Linked DNA regions of Homo sapiens. The protein of the gene in region 1 interacts with the protein of each later gene in a pairwise test. Each region holds a gene or a part of one and is shown on either strand. Other genes may lie near its edges.

What was found. The genes of interacting proteins can lie anywhere in the genome.
Region 2: the proteins of SPAG5 (region 1) and SH2D4A interact in binary tests that used the Homo sapiens proteins (3 or more experiments, as listed by UniProt).
Region 3: the proteins of SPAG5 (region 1) and OSBPL8 interact in binary tests that used the Homo sapiens proteins (3 or more experiments, as listed by UniProt).
Region 4: the proteins of SPAG5 (region 1) and RBM41 interact in binary tests that used the Homo sapiens proteins (3 or more experiments, as listed by UniProt).

Annotation. Positions count from the first base shown.
Region 1 is NC_000017.11:28,581,361-28,586,258, reverse strand, and holds part of SPAG5 (sperm-associated antigen 5), read left to right. Parts: intron 1-76; coding exon 77-169; intron 170-260; coding exon 261-395; intron 396-605; coding exon 606-725; intron 726-847; coding exon 848-940; intron 941-1,043; coding exon 1,044-1,157; intron 1,158-1,513; coding exon 1,514-1,607; intron 1,608-1,778; coding exon 1,779-1,926; intron 1,927-2,006; coding exon 2,007-2,109; intron 2,110-2,272; coding exon 2,273-2,406; intron 2,407-2,609; coding exon 2,610-2,748; intron 2,749-4,898. UniProt on the Homo sapiens protein: Essential component of the mitotic spindle required for normal chromosome segregation and progression into anaphase. Required for chromosome alignment, normal timing of sister chromatid segregation, and maintenance of spindle pole architecture.
Region 2 is NC_000008.11:19,329,700-19,334,597, forward strand, and holds part of SH2D4A (SH2 domain-containing protein 4A), read left to right. Parts: intron 1-3,255; coding exon 3,256-3,415; intron 3,416-4,898. UniProt on the Homo sapiens protein: Inhibits estrogen-induced cell proliferation by competing with PLCG for binding to ESR1, blocking the effect of estrogen on PLCG and repressing estrogen-induced proliferation. May play a role in T-cell development and function.
Region 3 is NC_000012.12:76,552,867-76,557,764, reverse strand, and holds part of OSBPL8 (oxysterol-binding protein-related protein 8), read left to right. Parts: intron 1-4,898. UniProt on the Homo sapiens protein: Lipid transporter involved in lipid countertransport between the endoplasmic reticulum and the plasma membrane: specifically exchanges phosphatidylserine with phosphatidylinositol 4-phosphate (PI4P), delivering phosphatidylserine to the plasma membrane in exchange for PI4P, which is degraded by the SAC1/SACM1L phosphatase in the endoplasmic reticulum.
Region 4 is NC_000023.11:107,066,418-107,071,315, forward strand, and holds part of RBM41 (RNA-binding protein 41), read right to left. Parts: intron 4,009-4,898; coding exon of another isoform or gene 3,773-4,008; exon of another isoform or gene 2,986-3,772; coding exon 2,838-2,985; intron 1,277-2,837; coding exon 1,110-1,276; 3' UTR 399-1,109; coding exon of another isoform or gene 391-398; 3' UTR 1-390. UniProt on the Homo sapiens protein: May bind RNA.

The sequences.
Region 1 (4,898 bases):
GGTTTTCCTCCCCAGTGCCCCTGTTTCCTGCTTAGTGACTTTATTTGATCTCACCTACCCATTTTTTTCTCTACAGCAATCATGGGTGCTTATCTCTAAAGAGCTGATATCCTTGCTTCACCTATCCCTGTTGCATTTAGAAGAAGATAAGACTACTGTGAGTCAGGAGGTAAGCAGCCTGAAGATGGAGGTGGAGGCCTGTGGTGGGACTAAAAGCCATAAAGAGGAACCAGACACATTAACTGATTCTTACCATATAGTCTCGGCGTGCAGAAACATTGGTCTGTTGCTGTTTTGATTTGCTGAAGAAATTGAGGGCAAAGCTCCAGAGCCTCAAAGCAGAAAGGGAGGAGGCAAGGCACAGAGAGGAAATGGCTCTCAGAGGCAAGGATGCGGTAAGGTGACAGGCATTTGTTCTTGGATGTGGGAGGTTTCCACCTCAAGGTTCCTGCAGGAACACAAATGCACTTTAGACACAGATGGGTGGCCTAAGAACTGCCTGCCCTGGGCAGTAAAGAACTGATCTATTGAGGTGTCATGGTTACATCTTTTTGTGCTGGCTCCCCTGTTGCCCACTGTGGCCTTGCAACCACTTCCCTCAATAGGCAGAGATAGTGTTGGAGGCTTTCTGTGCACACGCCAGCCAGCGCATCAGCCAGCTGGAACAGGACCTAGCATCCATGCGGGAATTCAGAGGCCTTCTGAAGGATGCCCAGACCCAACTGGTAATTTAAGGGCATTTTCTTTCCTGGGGTCTGTGCTGACAGACTGGGAGGGTAGTTGCATACTCCCACTTTGCTGTATCCAAAGGGAAGGGGTTCCCGCCTAGGCAATCTTTCTTTTGTAGGTAGGGCTTCATGCCAAGCAAGAAGAGCTGGTTCAGCAGACAGTGAGTCTTACTTCTACCTTGCAACAAGACTGGAGGTCCATGCAACTGGATGTGAGTATTTGGGACCATCATAACTAATTCCTTACTCACATCAAGTCCTGTTGTGAGCTTTGCCTCAAGTGTGCTCTACTGACCTGCTTGCTTCCCCTGGTAGTATACAACATGGACAGCTTTGCTGAGTCGGTCCCGACAACTCACAGAGAAACTCACAGTCAAGAGCCAGCAAGCCCTGCAGGAACGTGATGTGGCAATTGAGGAAAAGCAGGAGGTACAAACCAAGAGTGGGGACTGCTTAGGCTTGGTTTCCTTCCTAATGTGTGATACCATTAGCCTCTTACCCTGGATCTGTTTTCTTTTCACCCTGTGGGTTTGGAGGCCAGCCAGTAAGGTCTCTTAGCTGTAAGATGGCCTTAAGCGCAGTTTTTTCCTTTGCCCTTCAGCATCTTTACTTCAGCAACTTTTCTCCTGTCTCTACTTTTTCCTGAGGATCAACCTTATTTTCTGCAATGTTGATGCCCAGGAGCAAGGTAGTTTTCTGTCTTGTCCAGAAAGAGAAGCTGGACCAAGTCCTGGGATTATTGATTCAGGAGGAACTATAGGAGGAAAACCATCTGTTCTTCCTAGGTTTCTAGGGTGCTGGAACAAGTCTCTGCCCAGTTAGAGGAGTGCAAAGGCCAAACAGAACAACTGGAGTTGGAAAACAGTCGTCTAGCAACAGGTGTTTGTGTGTGTGTGTGTGTATGCATGCATGTAAGCATTTGAGCCCTGTTAAGGCTTGGAGTGTGGCACTAGAGCAAGGAAGTACTCAGGAGCACTTGCTTTGGAGCAGAAGTTTGGGGAGTTTCTAGCCTGCTGACCGCATGGTGTCATTAGGATACTTTTGTTCTAGATCTCCGGGCTCAGTTGCAGATTCTGGCCAACATGGACAGCCAGCTAAAAGAGCTACAGAGTCAGCATACCCATTGTGCCCAGGACCTGGCTATGAAGGATGAGTTACTCTGCCAGCTTACCCAGAGCAATGAGGAGCAGGCTGCTCAGTGAGTTCCTAACGGGGTACTGTGGCAGTAGGCATCCAGGATTTAGGACCAAATGGGATCTAATATGTTGTCTCTGGCAGATGGCAAAAGGAAGAGATGGCACTAAAACACATGCAGGCAGAACTGCAGCAGCAACAAGCTGTCCTGGCCAAAGAGGTGCGGGACCTGAAAGAGACCTTGGAGGTAAGGAATATGGCTTGGGCCAAGGGAGCTGGTAAGCCTCAGGAGTGTGATTCTTGCCTGATAGTGTTGAGGTAAGGTTTGAGACTGTGAACTAGAAAAAGCCTCTGTACCCAGGGCACTAAAATTCTCCCTCCCTGTCTTGCTCCTTCTCTTGTCTTCCCAGTTTGCAGACCAGGAGAATCAGGTTGCTCACCTGGAGCTGGGTCAGGTTGAGTGTCAATTGAAAACCACACTGGAAGTGCTCCGGGAGCGCAGCTTGCAGTGTGAGAACCTCAAGGACACTGTAGAGAACCTAACGTAAGTTCTCTAACTTTCTGTACTTCCCCCTAAGTGCTTATTTTTTTCTCAGGAACACTTCTAGAAGCCAAAATCTCCAAGAAGAGAACTGTGAGTGTTGAGCCTCTTGTTTCTCTCCTTTAATGCAGCTCTGTGGGGATTTGGGATAGGCGTTCAGAGAAGGTAATTTGGTCTTTGGTCATCTTCCCTGTTCCTTATTTCAGGGCTAAACTGGCCAGCACCATAGCAGATAACCAGGAGCAAGATCTGGAGAAAACACGGCAGTACTCTCAAAAGCTAGGGCTGCTGACTGAGCAACTACAGAGCCTGACTCTCTTTCTACAGACAAAACTAAAGGAGAAGGTAGGATCCTGGGGTTCCTTCTCTTCTCTTCCAATTGTATCTTTATTTTACAGATAGTCTTCCTAAAACATTACTCTTTTTCTAACTGTGACCTTTTATGATTTCAGTTACCTACAGGACCTCATTAGCCTGTTGCTCAAACCTTTCTTCCCCTGTCTCCTATCTCCCTATTATGAACACTTTGCCCCAGCTAGACTGCCTGTATGCTACACACATGTCCCCATTTTTATCCCCAGAACCCAGACTCTGGCTGTTCCCACATTCATTCTATTCTTTCTTCAAACTGGAAATGCCTTTTCTATTAAAATCCTCCCTTCCGACCTGGGCAACGTGGTGAAAACCATCTCTACAAAAAAATACAGAAATTAGCCCAGGTGTAGTGTTGTGAACCTGTAGTCCCAGCTATCTGGGAGGCTGAGGTGAGAGGATCACCTGAGCCTGGGAAGTTGAGGCTGCAGTGAGCCATGATCATACCTGGCTAATTTTTTTGTATCACTGCACTCCAAACTGGGTGAGAGTGAAACCCTTTCCCCCACAAAAAAAGAAATCTTCCCTGGTTTACCTTCTTTGAACTGTTCCCAAATCAAATCATGTGGACCCGGTGATCTTTTCTTCTGCCATATTTCTCATGAACTTACTCTTCTTTTGTATTTGTATTAATTTTCCTTGGATACCTGGTCTCTTCAACCAGACTATGTTTCAAGAAAGCAGAAATATAGCCTTCTTTGGCCTCCCTGCAGTGTGCACTAAACAATAAATGGTTGACATCATTCAGAATACAAAGGTAATTAGCTTATTCAGCAGATAAGGCACAACAAATATCCTAAAATCTGGCAATTGCTTATGACCTGATCCTCTTCCCCAACTGGGTACCGAGCACAGGAAATGCCATCAAATCTACAGTTTAGCATGGAAGACAAACAGATGTAAACTTGTCATCTTGACTTATGATCATGGTAGAGGTCTGCATGGACCACTGTGAGAGATAGAGAGGGGAGCACCACTTCAGCCTTCGAGAATTAGGATGCCTTCTCAAAGCAGCTGACCTTGGGTACAGTCTTGAGGTTTAGACGTTTGTGGGGCAGGGGAGGGTATTTAGGAAGTCCCACTAGGCAGAGGGAACGGTGTATGAAAGTTTCATCTGACTACATATGAGAGTCGTACGTAGAAAGTCATGCACATAGTACATGATGTGTTCTTTTTTATAGTGTCTACCTTATAAAACCTGGGTTAGGTGCTGGGACTAGAGGATGAACAAGGCAAGATGCTGCTCATATGGAATGCAGCAAGTCTGAGGAATGGGAAGCAGCTCTTCATGGCTGCAGCGTGAGAGCTCTGTGGGGCAAGGCAGGAGACAACACTGGAGAAGTAGGCAGGAGGCCAGATTTTGAAGGCTTGAAATAATGGCAGTTTTATAGGCAGTAGAAAGGAGAGGATGGAGTGAATGGATTCAATAGATATTTAGGAAGCAGAGGCAGTAGAACCAATTTGATGTAAGAGTGACCAATTTGATGTGAGAGTAAGTTAGAAGAGTGAATGATGATCCTTAGATTGCTAGGAAAGAGGGCCCAGCGGGTCAGCTGTGTTAGTGTGTGGAGACTAGGGCTAGTGACACCTCCGGGTCAGCTCTGTGCCCAGGAAGCACTTCAACCTGTGTGGCAGGAGGGATAGCAATAGGAAGCACTTCAATTCCCCACAACTCAGACACCCAGACGGGAGGGCAGAGGACCAAGGCTGAAAGGAGTAGAGAGCCTGAGAGAGAGATGAGACTGAGGGGAGCTAGTGGTGACTCAGGCTAACCAGTCAGCGGGAGAGACCTAGACCGGGGGGCAGAGAAGGCGGGAGAACTGGAGAGAGGACCTAGCCTAGGAGGAGAGGGAGCAGGCTGAGAAGGAAATGCTCTGGGTAGGAGAGACAGACTCCAAGGAAAAATCCAACAAGTAGAGGAGGATTTGGGATTGGAAAAGCTGAGGTCCAGCTGGGAGAGCTGAAGAGGGATAGAACAGAAGAGGTTGAGCCATGGGGTTTCAAGTACGCGGAAAGGAGCAAAGATGTTAGGAAAGGGTCGAAAGGGCACATCCCGGAGTCCCAGGTAGCAGGACGAGGATGGCAGGGGAAGAGCCAAGGAAATGAAGCGGAGATGTTGAGTG
Region 2 (4,898 bases), on another chromosome or scaffold:
GTAGTGAATAAGTCTTCTGAGATCTGAAGGTTTTATCAGGGGTTTCCACTTTTGCATCTTTCTTACTCTCCCTTTGCCTGCTGCCATCCATGTAAGACGTTACAGGTGCAAGTAGCTCCTCCTTGCCTTCTGCCATGATTGTGAAGCTTCCCTAGTCATGAAACTTTAAGTAATTAAACTCTTTCTTTTGCAAATTGCCCAGTCTTGGGTATGTCTTTATCAGCAACTTGAAAATGGACTAATACACTGTGTCTACCTCAGTGCCTGACACGTATTAGATATGTGATGAAAATTCATTAAATGCATCACCTAATGTCTTGCTCCTTCTCTTGTAGACTCTAGGTTACTTGCAGGGGAATGGGCACATCTCTTTCATCCCTTTCATTCCTGTATCACCTGCAGCATCTAGCTCTACATCTTGCTAATAGCAAAAACTCATTTTCTGCCTTGTAGAATGAACTACTACGAAGGCCTTGAGAGTCATCCCCTCATCTGATGTGAAGCCGAGGGTATCCCAGCTAACACTCATTATACTAGAACAACTTCCCCCTCCTCCTACAGCTTCAGGGAGTTCATGGAACCACTTGAAGCTCCTCCAGTATCCCCACTCTCTGAGCTCATTGAAGAGCTCTTAGAGGTGAAAAGTCAGCAGAGAGACCATTGTCAGTGCCACTCTGTCAAGAGCCCGTTTTTCAGCATCTCACTAACTCTGACATTTCCCATCTCATTCTCTTTCTTCTTGCCAAGAGCCACTGCTTCTTTATGGTCACTGTGTTCTCTCTGTTACCTCCTTTAAAGCTTTCTTGACTCTGCTCCTCTCCTTTGCTCTCTTCTCTGTGTTTAGCTTTGAAGCCCCAACTGCTCACATGCAGTCCTAGGATTTCTCTCCCCACCTGCAGCAATGCCCCTTTTCCCTAAGAGTTCCTGCCCTGCCCGTAGCCCCTGGAGGCTGTTCTGGAGCTGTTCTGGGCTGTCCTAGCTGAGGTGCTGGAATCCCTCTGCTCTTCCTTTTTCTTCCCCTGGCACAGTGCCACTTGCCATCTTTCTGGGCATCTTCCTCTTGCTGTCAAAAAAAAAATACCGACAGAGAACTACTTAGGTGAAGGCTGAGAGGCTGACATAAAAAAAATATTATTAGTTGGCCTGAGAGAGTGTAATAAAGGGAGTTTTATGAGGTATGACAGCTTTCTAAAGTTAACAAACCATCTGGCATTATGTCAAACAGACAAAGAGCTTGCCAGGAGCTGGCACTGGTGCCCAGCCCCATTTGGGCATGGTGGGATTGACCTTCCCCTCCTTACCTGGAGGCCACATTTGCTGTTTCTCCACAGTGAAAACAGTAAATGGGAATTCTTTGGTAGTGCAGAGTCTGAGTCTGTTCCCTCTGCCCAGCGTCTCTGTTTAGAACATACTGCAGGAGTGTCCACTGTACCAAGAAGGGTAGAAAGGGTCAAAAGAAAGCACGAGCCTGGCTTTGAGCAGCCTGCTTTGGTAATGTATCCCAAGGCCACAGTACAAAAGTCAAGAATACGTTGGACAGAAGACACCTTAATTGGAAACCTCCTTTGACTTAGTGTGAGAGGACAAGACACAATCCCAGTGTGGATGTTTTGCTCATCAAACAGGGCCCAGCACACACACCAGCCAGGTGCCCTCTTCCATGCAGTCAGCACCACTGCTAGTTTGGGGTCTTGACTAGAGGTCCACCTTTGGCCCACAGTTGCCCTGGGTAGGCCTGACAGACTCAGGGATGGTCTCTGTTGGCCTCTCCTAGGTACGCTCCACCTGCCCCCGGTTTAAGGGAGCATGACCGATGTGGCCGCATTTCAGGAGCACTAGGATATAATCTAACCTGGAGGCCAATTGTAAACAAGGGTTATTTAAGTAGCTTCACCAAGTATCATACTACCTGGTTATATTATCTTCTCACAGGCTGGTGTGAATCTCTGAGGCAGCCATATAAGTAAATAATAGGCTAGCAATGATAGCAGTTAACCTCTATTGAACTCCTGTTATGTGGCAGGCACTAGGGGAAGAACTTGGCACAGGTAGCCTGCCTGCCCACAGCAACCCTAGGTAGTAAATATTGGTATTCCCATTTTGCAGATGAGGAAATTGAGTCTAAAGAGTTTAAGAAAGTTGTCCAAGTCACATAGCTCGTAAGTGACAGGGCTAGGATTTGAACTCAAGGTGGTCTAAATCTAAAATACCTCCTTATCTGAGGCAAGAGGATTGCTTGAAGCCAGAAGTTTGAGACCAGCCTGGGCAACAAAGCAAAGCCCTGTCTCTACAAAAAATTTTAAAAATTAGCTGGGCATGGTAATGCATGCCTGCATTCCTAACTACTATGAGCTCACCACTGCACTCCAGCCTGAGTGACAGAGCAAGACACCATTTCTAAAATAAAATAATAAATACAAATAAAATACAATATAAATAAAATAATAAAACCTGCTTTTTACCCACCTATGAAGCCTGTGAATGTAGTACAAATGCCACACCCTTGAGCAGCTGTGGAATTCTGGGTTACAGGGAGATAGTTAGATGTAAGAATTTATGGTGTGAAGTGCTAGCTCTGTTACCCTAAAGGATAATGCAAACAATGAATGCTTGCTTCCCATTTCAGTTTCTTCATTTATAAAATAGGCACATGCAGCCAGGCGCAGTGACTCACACCTGTAATCCCAGCACTTTGGCAGGCTGAGGTGGGTGGATCACGAGGTCAGGAGTTCAAGACCAGCCTGGCCAAGATGGTGAAATCCTGTCTCTACTAAAAATACAAAAATTAGCTGGTCGTGGTGGCAGATGCCTGTAATGGTGAAACCCTGTCTCTACTAAAAATACAAAAATTAGCTGGGCATGGTGGCAGGTGCCTGTAATCCCAGCTACTTGGGAGGCTGAGGTGGGGAACGGCTTGAACCCAGAGGCGGAGGTTGCAGTGAGCCAAGATCATGCCACTGCACTCCAGCCTGGGCAACAGTGTGAGACTGTCAAAAAAAAAAAAAAAAAAAAAAGCACGGGCAAAAAACATACCCCTAATATTTTTAAAACAAATATTTTCACTGAAGCTGCCTCTCACTGCCACCACTGCCATTGCTACCTACAGATGTTCCTGAGCAGTTGGAAGTTCTTTGTCTCATCTGATATATATATATATATTTTCAAAGACCCAAAATACTTTAGTGATGGAAACAGTAATCTGTGACTAAAGATATTTGTTCAATCTGAATTTTTTGTTTGTGTGTTTGTTTGCAGAGAATGGCAAATCGGTTCATTGGAAACTTGGAGCTGATAAGGAAGTCTGGGTATGGGTGATGGGCGAACACCATCTAGATAAACCCTATGATGTGCTCTGTAATGAAATTATTGCTGAGAGGGCCCGGCTGAAAGCAGAACAGGAGGCAGAAGAGCCCAGGTATGAGATCTGCAAACCAACCAGAGACTTAAAGACTCTCCAGACTTTAGAAAACATTGCAAACACACCTCTTGCTCACAGTATCAGGTGGGAGAGTAGGGTTGGGTTGGAGGGTCACAAAAGTCACTTTGGATCTCTTTGGAAGGTTGATTTAGACTTTTGGTCTAAAGACCTTTTGGATCTCTTTAGAAGGTTGATTTAGACTTTTGATCTAAAGTCTTTGATAGCACTAAAGACCTCATGAAAATCTTTAGTGCTGTCAAATCAGCTGCTTCATCTCCCTGCTTGTCATTCCAGTTTTGATCTGTATGAGTGTATGAGTTCCCCAGTGATCACCCGTGGCTGCACTAGAGTCATGTTAGAGCAATGCAGGCCGACGCAGCTGAGTATCAGGAACATATGTGAGAAATGCAGTGACTGTGCAAGCTTCAGGCCTTCCAAGGAGATCACTTAGATACAGGCGGCTGGATAATCAGGCTCTTTAGGTGCCTACCCAGTGCAAGGTACTGGGAATTCAAAGAGAAACAGGGAGCTTCCAGTCTAGGAGGAGAAGTAGACATATGCACAGCTCACTGCGGCCAGTGCAGGCTGTGATTTGTGCTATAATTAAGGTACAAACAGAAAGTTTACCAAGCATAGGTGGGAACCTATCATTCTGATCCACAGACGAGGTGAAATCTGAACCAAACCTTGAAAGGAGTGGTTTTCCAGCTACAGAAGGCCAGGAAGGAAAGTGCAGGCAGAGGGCTTAACCAAGATCCCTAGACTTGACTACGGATGGTTCTTTGGGGAATGATGAGGTCTTCTGAGCATTTGGAATACACTTGGACAACTGCTTCAGAGGCCAGATTTAGGAGTTTGGAACTTATTCTCTGGACGGTGAGGTTTTTCAATAGGGAAGTGACATCAACTGCAGATGTAGGAAGGTAACTCGGAGGGAAACTGAGGCAGGTGATGGCGCTCCTCTGCTGGGTACCTGGGGTGCTCTGGGTGTCCTCCTCTGGCTCTGGGCAGTGATGTTGACAGCCTTACCCTGAGGTGGTGAAGTGGAAATTGGGACAGACATGAGGACCACCGTTCAGTTCCCAAGGGCTAGGGATGCAAAGCAGACTCTGTGGCACAGTGGATGGTGCATTGGACTTTCAAGGGCTGGGATGCTGCCCACTAGTGCCTGTAACTTTAAAACTATCCATGGACATATGAAGATAAAGGAATTATTTAATCATCGATTGGAAGCAGACGGTGTGGTTCTAATAGGTTAACTTCTAAACCAGGAGTTGAGCAGACCAGGGTTCAGATCTTGGCTGTACCACTATGTGGTCTTGGATGAATTACAAAATTTCTTGGAGCTCTTATAACAAAGTGAGGATGACAATGCCTTCCTCACAGGGTTGTGATGAGGATGAAGTTAACGTCTTTACACACCTAGCAAAGGGCCCAGCATGTTAGAAGCACTCAGTAAGTGGTGTCAGTTACTGTTTTT
Region 3 (4,898 bases), on another chromosome or scaffold:
TCATTTAAAAATTGGAAGCCTTAGAAAACACTTTGGGGATAAATTTACAATTGTGTATAATGAATTTATGTTTTAGTTTGCTTTAAGAAAAATGATGAAATTATGAATTTGTAAAATATGCATTACAAAAGGATTTTTTTTTTTTTTTTTTTTAAGACTGTCTCACTCTGTATCCCAGGCTGGAGTGCAGTGGTGCAACTTGGCTCACTGCAGCTTCTGCCACCTGGGTTCAAGAGATTCTTATGCTTCAGCCTCCTGAGTAGCTGGGATTACAGGTGCGTGCCACCATGCCAGGCTAATTTTTGTATTTTTATTAGAGATGGGGTTTCACCATGTTGGCCAGGCTGGTCTCCAACTCCTGGCCTCAAGATCCGCCCGCCTCAGCCTCCCAAAGTGCTGGGATTACAGTCATGAGCCACTGTGTCTGGCGGATCTTTTGTTTAAAAGTATGAATTGCAGAATTTTAACCAGTGTTAGTACATTTCAACTTGGCTTTGGTTTGTAAATAATCCTTCAAAAGTAGATTACTTGAATTAAGGCATTAAAGACAAAGAATTGATACAGTACATAGATCTAGTTTTCTAATATTAATTTGGAAAACTTTTATCCTAATATTATCCTAATAACAATGCCTGAAATGTCATGTTGTAATGTTTGTATTATATTGAAAGTTAAAAACATTTATAGCAATGTTCTTGGAGCATCAGGCAATTCAAAGAGGACATAGGTCCTGCCTTAATCTTACAAATAATGACCTGCAAATAAGACAGAAACACAACTTGAATAAAAAAGCCTTTGAGAGGCCAGGCCCGGTGGCTCACGCCTGTAATGCTAGCACTTTGGGAGGCTGAGGTGGGCAGATCATGAGGTCAGAAGTTCAAGACCCGCCTGGCCAACATGGTGAAACCCCGTCTCTACTAAAAATACAAAAAAATTAGCTGGGCGTGGCAGTGTGTGCCTGTAATCCCAGCTACTTGGGAGGCTGAGGCAGGAGAATCGCATGAACCCAGGAGACAGAGATTGCAACGAGCCAAGATCATGCCATTGCACTCCAGCCTGGGCGATAGAGCAAGACTCAGTCTCAAAAAACACCAAAAAAACAAAAAGCCTCTGAGAAATATACAATTTTTAGTGAAGGTGGCTGGGTACAAGGAGATTAGTAGAAGTGCTTGACTGGAGCAGTTGTGGCCAAAGTATAGCTTCCTTGTGATGAGACACAGGAAGAGATGTCTAGACTCATGTTGTGTGCATATTTCATGGCAGTATGTGGGAAACCCCTGAGAGATTTTAGATCTTTCTTCCCACCTTGGTCCCCATCCCTCACATATCCTCACAAAGTCATAAAATTCTCATGTGGAAGGCGTGATAGAAGGAATTTTTCTTCCTGAAAAGTGTTATCAAGCTTGCAAGGGAGAGAGCTATTTTCGGAGACCTTATAGGGAAGAAATCCTAGTCCTAGAGCATCATATTCTTATACCCTGTTATTTTTACCTTTGTCGAAGATCCAGATAATGTAAATTCTCCATGATAGCAAGGACCTTGTCTGTTTTGCTCACCATTGAATCTCCAAATGTTCAATAGTTAATGAATGAAAAAAGTCTACTTCCAGATATATGACTGGAGAACAAAAGGAGTATCTGATAATGTAGTCCAAACTAAATGCAAGCAGCGAAATGATAAAGGAAGGATGTTAGCTTGGGAGAAGGGGAACAGGTCATTTAATCTGGGAAACTTTCTTGGAGGAGGTGATTCTTGAGTTAGGTTTTGGTGTGGGCTGTGTGTCTGAAGATAAGCAGTGTCTAAGGGGGTAGACAACGTGCAGCAAAGCATTTAAGTCAGACTGAATAAATTATGTCAGATAAAGCACAGTAAGTCTTTTTTTGTAACATTATGAAGAATTTTTATTCTCCCATCTCTATTTTCACCTCTCCCTAAATAAAAAGATTAACTTGCTTTGCAACAGCAGAGATTGACAGTACTTGAGTTTTGGAAGTACGATAAGGGTCAGAAAATTTGAATTGGTGTTCTGACTGAATCTTATACAAGCGTCGTTTCCATCGGCCAATCACTTGGTCTTAGTTTTCTCATTTGTAAAATCAGGATAATAATCCATGATCGTTGGGAGAACAAAGTTATATAATGCATGTGAAAGTGCATACCTCAATATGAATGTGCCTACCTCAATGTGTCACACATAGGAGGACTTCAGCAAATACAAAATTATTAAAACGTTTGTCTGCAGATCTTTAAAACATATTTTGATTCGTTTATCATGAACTCTAATATTTGCTTGACTCATCTAGATGACTCATGGCATTATGTTTAAATTGATCAGAATCAAAATTCTAGATAATTTTCTTTCAGTCAGTTTAATGTTTTCTGGTAGAAATGAGGCCTAATTGTATTACTGCTTAATGTTACAGACCACAAGGAGTGCTAGAAGCCTCAAATTTTTGAAGCTCAAAGTAAGGGATATGTGTAGCTGAAAATCTGAGCCTTTAAGCTTTTTTTCTCTACGTAATTTGTTTTTGAAGAAATTGTCTTTGCCTGTAATGTCATTTATCTATTCATTGTTGTGATGAAATAAGGGGTTTTCTGGTTGTTAAGAAAAAATTTACCAAAAATATTTTCTGTTTTTAGTGATGTGACTATAAGCCATGAAGATCTCTACCATCTGTGTTTTATTATAAAATTCAGTATTTCTTGAGCAAACAAACAGACATCTGCATTATTTCTTATCTAAGCTTTTTGTGCCAGTAGCTGTTCATTTATGAATCTCAGAATTTCATTATACTTTGTGAACTCTTTGTAGTGTTTTTGATCCATGGAGCAGTCTGTCCTTTGTATAATATTTGGAAGAGAATTTTATTATAAAAAGACTAAGAAGAGTCTTGAGCCTTTTTATTATACAAAGACTAAGAAGAGTCATCAAATGATAAGCCAGTTACCTACTAATTTCCATATTCAAAAAGGACTGAAAAAAAGAGGAAATGGTTTCAGAGCTTGACTTTTTTCAAATAAAAAGGAGAAGCTTTTTGATTTAGAGTTTTTGAAAACTTGATAGATTCAGAGGGAAATTGTTATAGGTCATATTAATAGCTAATGTGCGTCAACTGCTATATACCAGGTACTGTACTACTCTAGAAGTACTTGACATGTCATCACATTTGATCCTGACAACCACCCCGCAATCAGGCTATTTTCTTTTTTTTAAACCTGAGCAACTGACAGATTAAATAAGTGGTGGAGCCAGGATTTGAACTAAACCTGAGGCACAGAGAAGTTAAGTAGTAGGTGGTAGAGCCTACTAAAAGGATTTAAACTTGAGGTTTAACCTGACCTTTGACTTTGGAGCCTATCCTTTTAACCATCATATTATATACTGCCTTGTATAATTTATTTGCAGTTGCTCCTCTTGATACGTCTTGACCTTGTGATCTTCCTGAGTCTGTTTTAGTTGTGTCATTTACAAAATGCACTTTACTTTATAAGAAGATGGAATATAGCCTTGATTTTTTTTCTCTCATTTTACTTGTATTTGACTGACATCCTATTTTTAAATCTTAAAAATACTTAGAGTAAAGCAAATATTTATTTTATTGTTCATCCAGTTGCCATTTTCTCACTGGGGAATTTCAGAGAATTTCGGAGTAACTGGAAATTAAAGAACATAATAGATAACAGTATTTAAAGCTAAGTTGTTATAATTAAAAAATAGTTTTAAAGAATAAGGCTGATTCACAGAATTGGTATGCATTTTTTTTTAGTGTTTTTTTTTTTTTTTTTTTGAGATAGAGTCTCACTGTGTCACCTAGGCTGGAGTGCAGTAGTGTGATCTTGGCTCACTGCAACCTCTGCCTCCCGGTTTCAAGTGATTCTCATGCCTGAGCCTCCTGAGTAGCTGGGATTACGGGTGCATGCCACCATGCCCAGCTAATTTTTTGTATTTTTAGTAGAGATGGGGTTTCACCATATTGGCCAGGCTGTTCTCGAACTCCTGACGTAAAGTGATCCACCTGCCTCGTCCTCCCAAAGTGTTGAGATTACAGGCGTGAGCTACCTCCTCTGGCCTTTTTTTTTTTTCTTCTGATACAGGGTCTTGAGCTGTCACCTAGGCTGGAGTGCAGTGGCACTCACTACCATGGCTCACTGCAGCCTCGACCTCCCAGGCTCAAGTGATCCTCCTGTCTCTGCCTCCCAAGTAGCTGGGACTACAGGCGAATACCATCACACCTGGCTAATTTTTAAGTTTTTTTTTTTTTTTTTAGAAACAGAGTCTCACTATGTTGCCCAGCTTGGTCTTGAACCCCTAGCCTCAAATGATTCTCCCACCTTGGTCTCCCAAAGTGCTGGGATTATAGATGTGAGCTGCCATGCCAGGCCTATTTAGTGATATTTGAGGGACACAGATCTGTACAGTTGAAATCTGTCCTGTTGAGATGACCACCAGTAAGGTAATTTTTGCTTTTTGGCTGCCAAATGCCTACATATTAGCAGGAATAGTTTGTCAGATTACATAATTTTTTACAAGGAAGGCTGGGGCCCATGTGGAAATTATGGAATCTATGTTGGTATATTTTGATGGGATGGAAGTATGGTAGATCTGGAGAGAGAGAAGTTCAATCTAAGTAACATTATTACCGGGTAGAGTAATGAGGTGGGGTGCTTTGGATGTGAGGGCACAGGTACATTGTTCAAGTGGAGAGTAGGATGAGGGACTTCTGGAGACTAGCTTTGCTTAGTGTGTAATTTTGTGCATTGTTATGATTATAATAACTTGTAAGATCAGCAATTTGGAAGTAAAGAAAAGCAGTGCTGTGCATCATAGTGTGGAGTTTGTAATAGTTCTAGGCTGTTTTGCAAGATGTAGGTGCTTTACAAATATCCATTGGTAGTAA
Region 4 (4,898 bases), on another chromosome or scaffold:
TTAGAAATATGTAGGAATGCTTAATGGTGTCACACAGGTTCTATACTCTTGTTCAATTTTATTCATTGTTTTCCTTTCTGTTCTTCAGCCTGGATAATATCTCAGTTCATCTTCACAACCCAGTGAGGTAAGTAGCATTATTATCCTCACTTTATAGATGAAAAATGTGAGGCTCAGATTAAGTGACTTGCCAAGGTCATAGAATGTTAAGTGTGGCTGTACAGGTCTGACTCCAGTTTGTACTACTTCCTCTCTGTATATTGTTTTTTTATTTTCCAGCAACCATAAACAAACAACTGGGGGATTTGTGACTGGCATCCTCTTTTCTAGAGAACGCTTTATTTCCATTTCCGTTTGGCATTCTTTGCTTGTATGTTCCTCTTCTAAAATTCATATGCCTAATATTTAACATATATTAGACACTTAATCAATGTTTATTGCTATGAATTCAATGATACTCAATGGTTGCTAGCTTAAATGGCTGTGAGAACACCAACATTTTGATCTAAAATATTTCACTAGAAAAATATATAGCTTTTTGAAGACTGATAACTTGTGGAGGAAGCATTCATTAAATAAGTCAACTGACTTATGAAACTACCTACTATTACTGCTGATAGTTCTGACTTAATAGCATTTGTTGATGCTTAGGCCTGGGGGTCCTACTCTTTTATTTACTAGGTGGATGAAATATGGCAAATGGGCTCTAGTAAAGAAATATTTCAACATTTAATTAGTTTTTTATTTCTGTGTATACGAAGCAGTCTAAGAAAGAATGTTATCTCTAGAGACAAATATTGAGGACCCCAGAAAAATTATAAAGATTTTTAAAAATCCTTAGGAATAATCCGTTGTAATTCATCCTGAGAAAATAATACTCTTTGCACTTTACCCTTCATACTCAGCATATCATCTGTCCTATATAGTCTTCAATTATATAATAGAAAATGTTTTCTACCAGTTCTCTCCAAAAGCTGAAATTACTTTTTTCCCCTCCCTCAGTTAGTTTTTCCTCTTCAACTCCAAACAAACTGGTGTCTATACATAAATCCTAGATCCAAGATTCCAATTCAAGAAAGACCATCCAGGACCCACAATTTATATATATTCTAGCTACCACTAATTTCTGTAGTGCTACCTGTAGCACATGATATGAGAGAAGTCGCTTGGAGATTTGACCGTTGCTTTTTGTTCTTTCCAAACTCTATCACCAATATTTTCCCATGTAGTTTGTATCCATTTACTAGATGCAATGCTTGCCATGCTATCTCCTTATCTAAAAGAGAAAGAAAAAATTTCAATTTACATAGGACTTAATAATTCAATTCTATTCCAGGTTTAGTTTAGATTATTTTGCCTTGGAGTTAAATGTAAGCTATAAGGCCATATAGTCATTTGATTTGATCATTTTTTCTATAATCTCCCATTTGCATTATTAAGCAAAATTAAATTAATGGCAAAAATAATAACAATAAAAACTCAAAATCGGTGTTTGAGGGTGTCTCCTAATTCAAAGAAACAAGTAGAGAAACAAAGACATAGGCAGCGTGCTAAAGAAGTCTAAGCTATTAGTAATTATACACAAGTCTCTATCTTAGGTAACAGATTATAGGTATTATTAGAATCAATCATTTTCAAAATGAGTAACACAAAAGAAGTTATCATGTTATCAAGGGCACTTTGCCACTTTTTTTTCAGTGGGAGAGTGGTTCTGGGCCACCTTATTGGGATAAATAAGTATAAGAACACTTGTAGGCATATTGAAGGTTGAAATGTGAGAATATATACTACATGCCAGGAGTATTCAACTTATGGGTCTAAGAGCCTGGATGTAAGAAATAAGGAAGGGATGATTTGTGGCCAGGAGTTTGTGGAATCCTAAGTAGACAAGTAGACTAAACCAATTTTGTTTCATATATATAAGTACTACAAATTTTTTTAAGTGTATAGCTTTCAAGATTAGTAAAACAGCTACACATTTTAAAGTACTTGCTTTAAAAAGCCTTTTTATTATGTATTTTTTCAACTAATACATCGTATTATGTGGGGCACCCATAAACGGTTTTTTAAATTTAAAAGGGGTTCTTACACTTGAAAAGACTGAAAACCACTGGTATAGCGGATTTAAAAACCTTCAGTATGATAGGAAAGATGATACAAGACTGTATGAAAACAATGGAGGGGAGTTTGGCAGTATTCATGTGTAAAACCACTTGCCCACATATAGATTAATAGGCTATTTAGAAATGACGATACTTTAGGGACAATGAAAGGTACAGATCCTACAAAGCCTTCCCCCAAAACAACATATTATCTGGTCTGTCATAGAAACTGAAATTTGCATATTATTCTTCCAGTTGGATTAGAAGCTATGCATTAATTAATATGCAAATAATATTTAGAAGACTGTATCATCATCTACTAATTATGAATTAGTAATAAATTAGTATATTAGCTTGCTCTCACTTAGTCCTAAAGGAACAGCGCATAAGCCAAGTACATGTGTTCTGATCAGAATACTAATACATTAATTAATGAGTAATCTAATTATAACTTGGACTAGAAATACTATTGTCAGTGAAGGGAGTACAGATTTTGGTAGGGTAAGAAGGAAGTACCAAGACTGGGAAAAACTGAGGACACTGGGGTAGTGTGGCCATGCACTGTCAATGGAGGAGAGGAAACAGAAAGAAACACTGAAAACATATTTTTCGTTCATTGTCTTGTTCTCACATGCTGTGGAGAAATCAAAGGACTATATCTAAATTAGAGAGGTTATAGGTAATCTCTAGCGAACTGAGGGGCAACTGAGTAATCATCTGGATGAAACTACTTACTGGGAAAGGTGATAAAAGCCTGGCCCCTCATTCGTCCAGTCATCATTCGGAATTGAATTGGAGGTCCTTTTTTCTCCTGGAACCGAGCGAACAATGACACAAGATCTCTTTCAGTCACCCGAGGGCTAAGGTTCTTCAGGTATAATACCTAAAACAAATTGAGGATCAACCAAAATATCATATAAAGGAGGTAAGGCACTCTTTGTTTTTTTCTTTTTGAGACAAAGTCTCACTCTGTCACCCAGGCTGGAGTGCAGTGGCGCAATCTCTGCTCACTGCAACCTTGGCCTCCCAGGCTCAAGTGATTCTCATGCCTCAGCCTCCCGAGTAGCTGGGATTACAGTCATGTGCCACCACACCTGGCTAATTTTTGTATTTTTAGTAGACGTGGGGTTTCACCATGTTGTCCAGGCTGGTCTTGAACTCCCAAACTCAGGTGATCCACCCGCCTTGGCCTCCCAAAATGCTGGGATTACAGGCGTGAGACACCATGCTCAGCCGTAAGAAAACTCTTTCATTATGATTAGAATTAGTTTCACATAAAAATGGTGGATTGAACACATTCATTTAATTTCATTCCATCCAGAAAACTCTCTAAAACTATAGGCACTTAAAAAAAAAAAAAAAAAAACACAAATCAACAAGGTCAGGAGGAACAAGAAAAGGAGACAACAGCAATAATAATCTGGAAGATGAAAAATAATTGGATGAGCAGGAACCAACTCAGCACACTGAAGAAAGCTGAATTTTAAACTGGTAGTGGAGAGAGCCAAGAACACACCTGTCACCACTTAAGAATCCTTAAATAGTTCAGGAACTGATAATTTCACTTACCTTCAGAAATAAATGTGAAGGGATGGGGTTAAAATAAGGCAAATCAGTTGAAGGCTGTCTAAAAGCCAATATGATTTTTAAATACCCTCCCTCACAATATGCTATGGGGTAAAAGATAACTTGCCAATCCTGGTAGAAAACTTGAGGCTCATTGTCAGAAGATGGGGAATGCCATACATGGCTGAAGATGTGAACACTGTTTCTGAAAGCAAGGAAACTAAGAGAATACTAAATGTTGAGGTCCTCCCAGTCCTTTTCTGCCATTTGGCTCCTAGAACGCTGGTAGTACCCTCGTAAGAAAGATTTTGGAAGTCTTCTCTGGGAAAACTGGTAAGTCCTAGGAGGAAAGATATAAAAATACTGACTTGGGATGAGGAATTTCTCTAACAAATGACCCAGCCAGACCACTTTAAAGTGAAGCTCAAAGTCAACAAGTGCCATTTGTGTGCTCAGAGATTCCAATCTGCTTTTTAGTTCCTACTTATAAAGTTGGGCATGGATTATCAGGCATCTTAGGAACTCCTCTAATGTGAAAGAGAGAACACAACAAACATAAAGAAAAGAAAGGAAATAGGAAAAAACTTCAACAAACCATAACTAATATCCTCAGGAAAATAAGAGAAATTATTCTACCTATTAGGCGGCACGGGAGGGTAGGTGCGGTGGCTCACTCCTGTAATCCCAGTGCTTTGGGAGGCTGAGATGAGAGGATCGCTTGAGTCCAGGAGTTTGAGATCAGTCTGGGCAACACAGTGAGACCCTGTCTCTGCAAAAGAGACAGGGTGGCATGTGCTACTTGTGAGCAAACAGCATGCACCACCACAACTGGCCAATTTTACAAGTCCCAGCTATTTGGGAGGCTGAGGCAGGAGGATTACTGGAGCTCAGGAGTTTGAGGCTGTAGTGAACTATGATCACACTACACCACCACACTCCAGCCTGGGCAACAGAGTGAGACCCTGTCTCAAAAAAAAAAAAAAATTCAACAGAACAAAAATGAGCTCTTATATGTGATTGAACGTAAGATGTTATCAGCTTAAAACAGATTGTTTTACCATGCCCTATACCTATAAAAGATAAACAGAGAAAAATGGGAAAGATATCAAAGTATATCACTACAAAAAAAAAAAAAAACCCAATGAACCACAAAGGAAGACGGCAGAGAGGGAGAGACAAAAGAGCTACAACAGAGACAGAAAACAATTAACAAATGGCAATAGTAAGTCC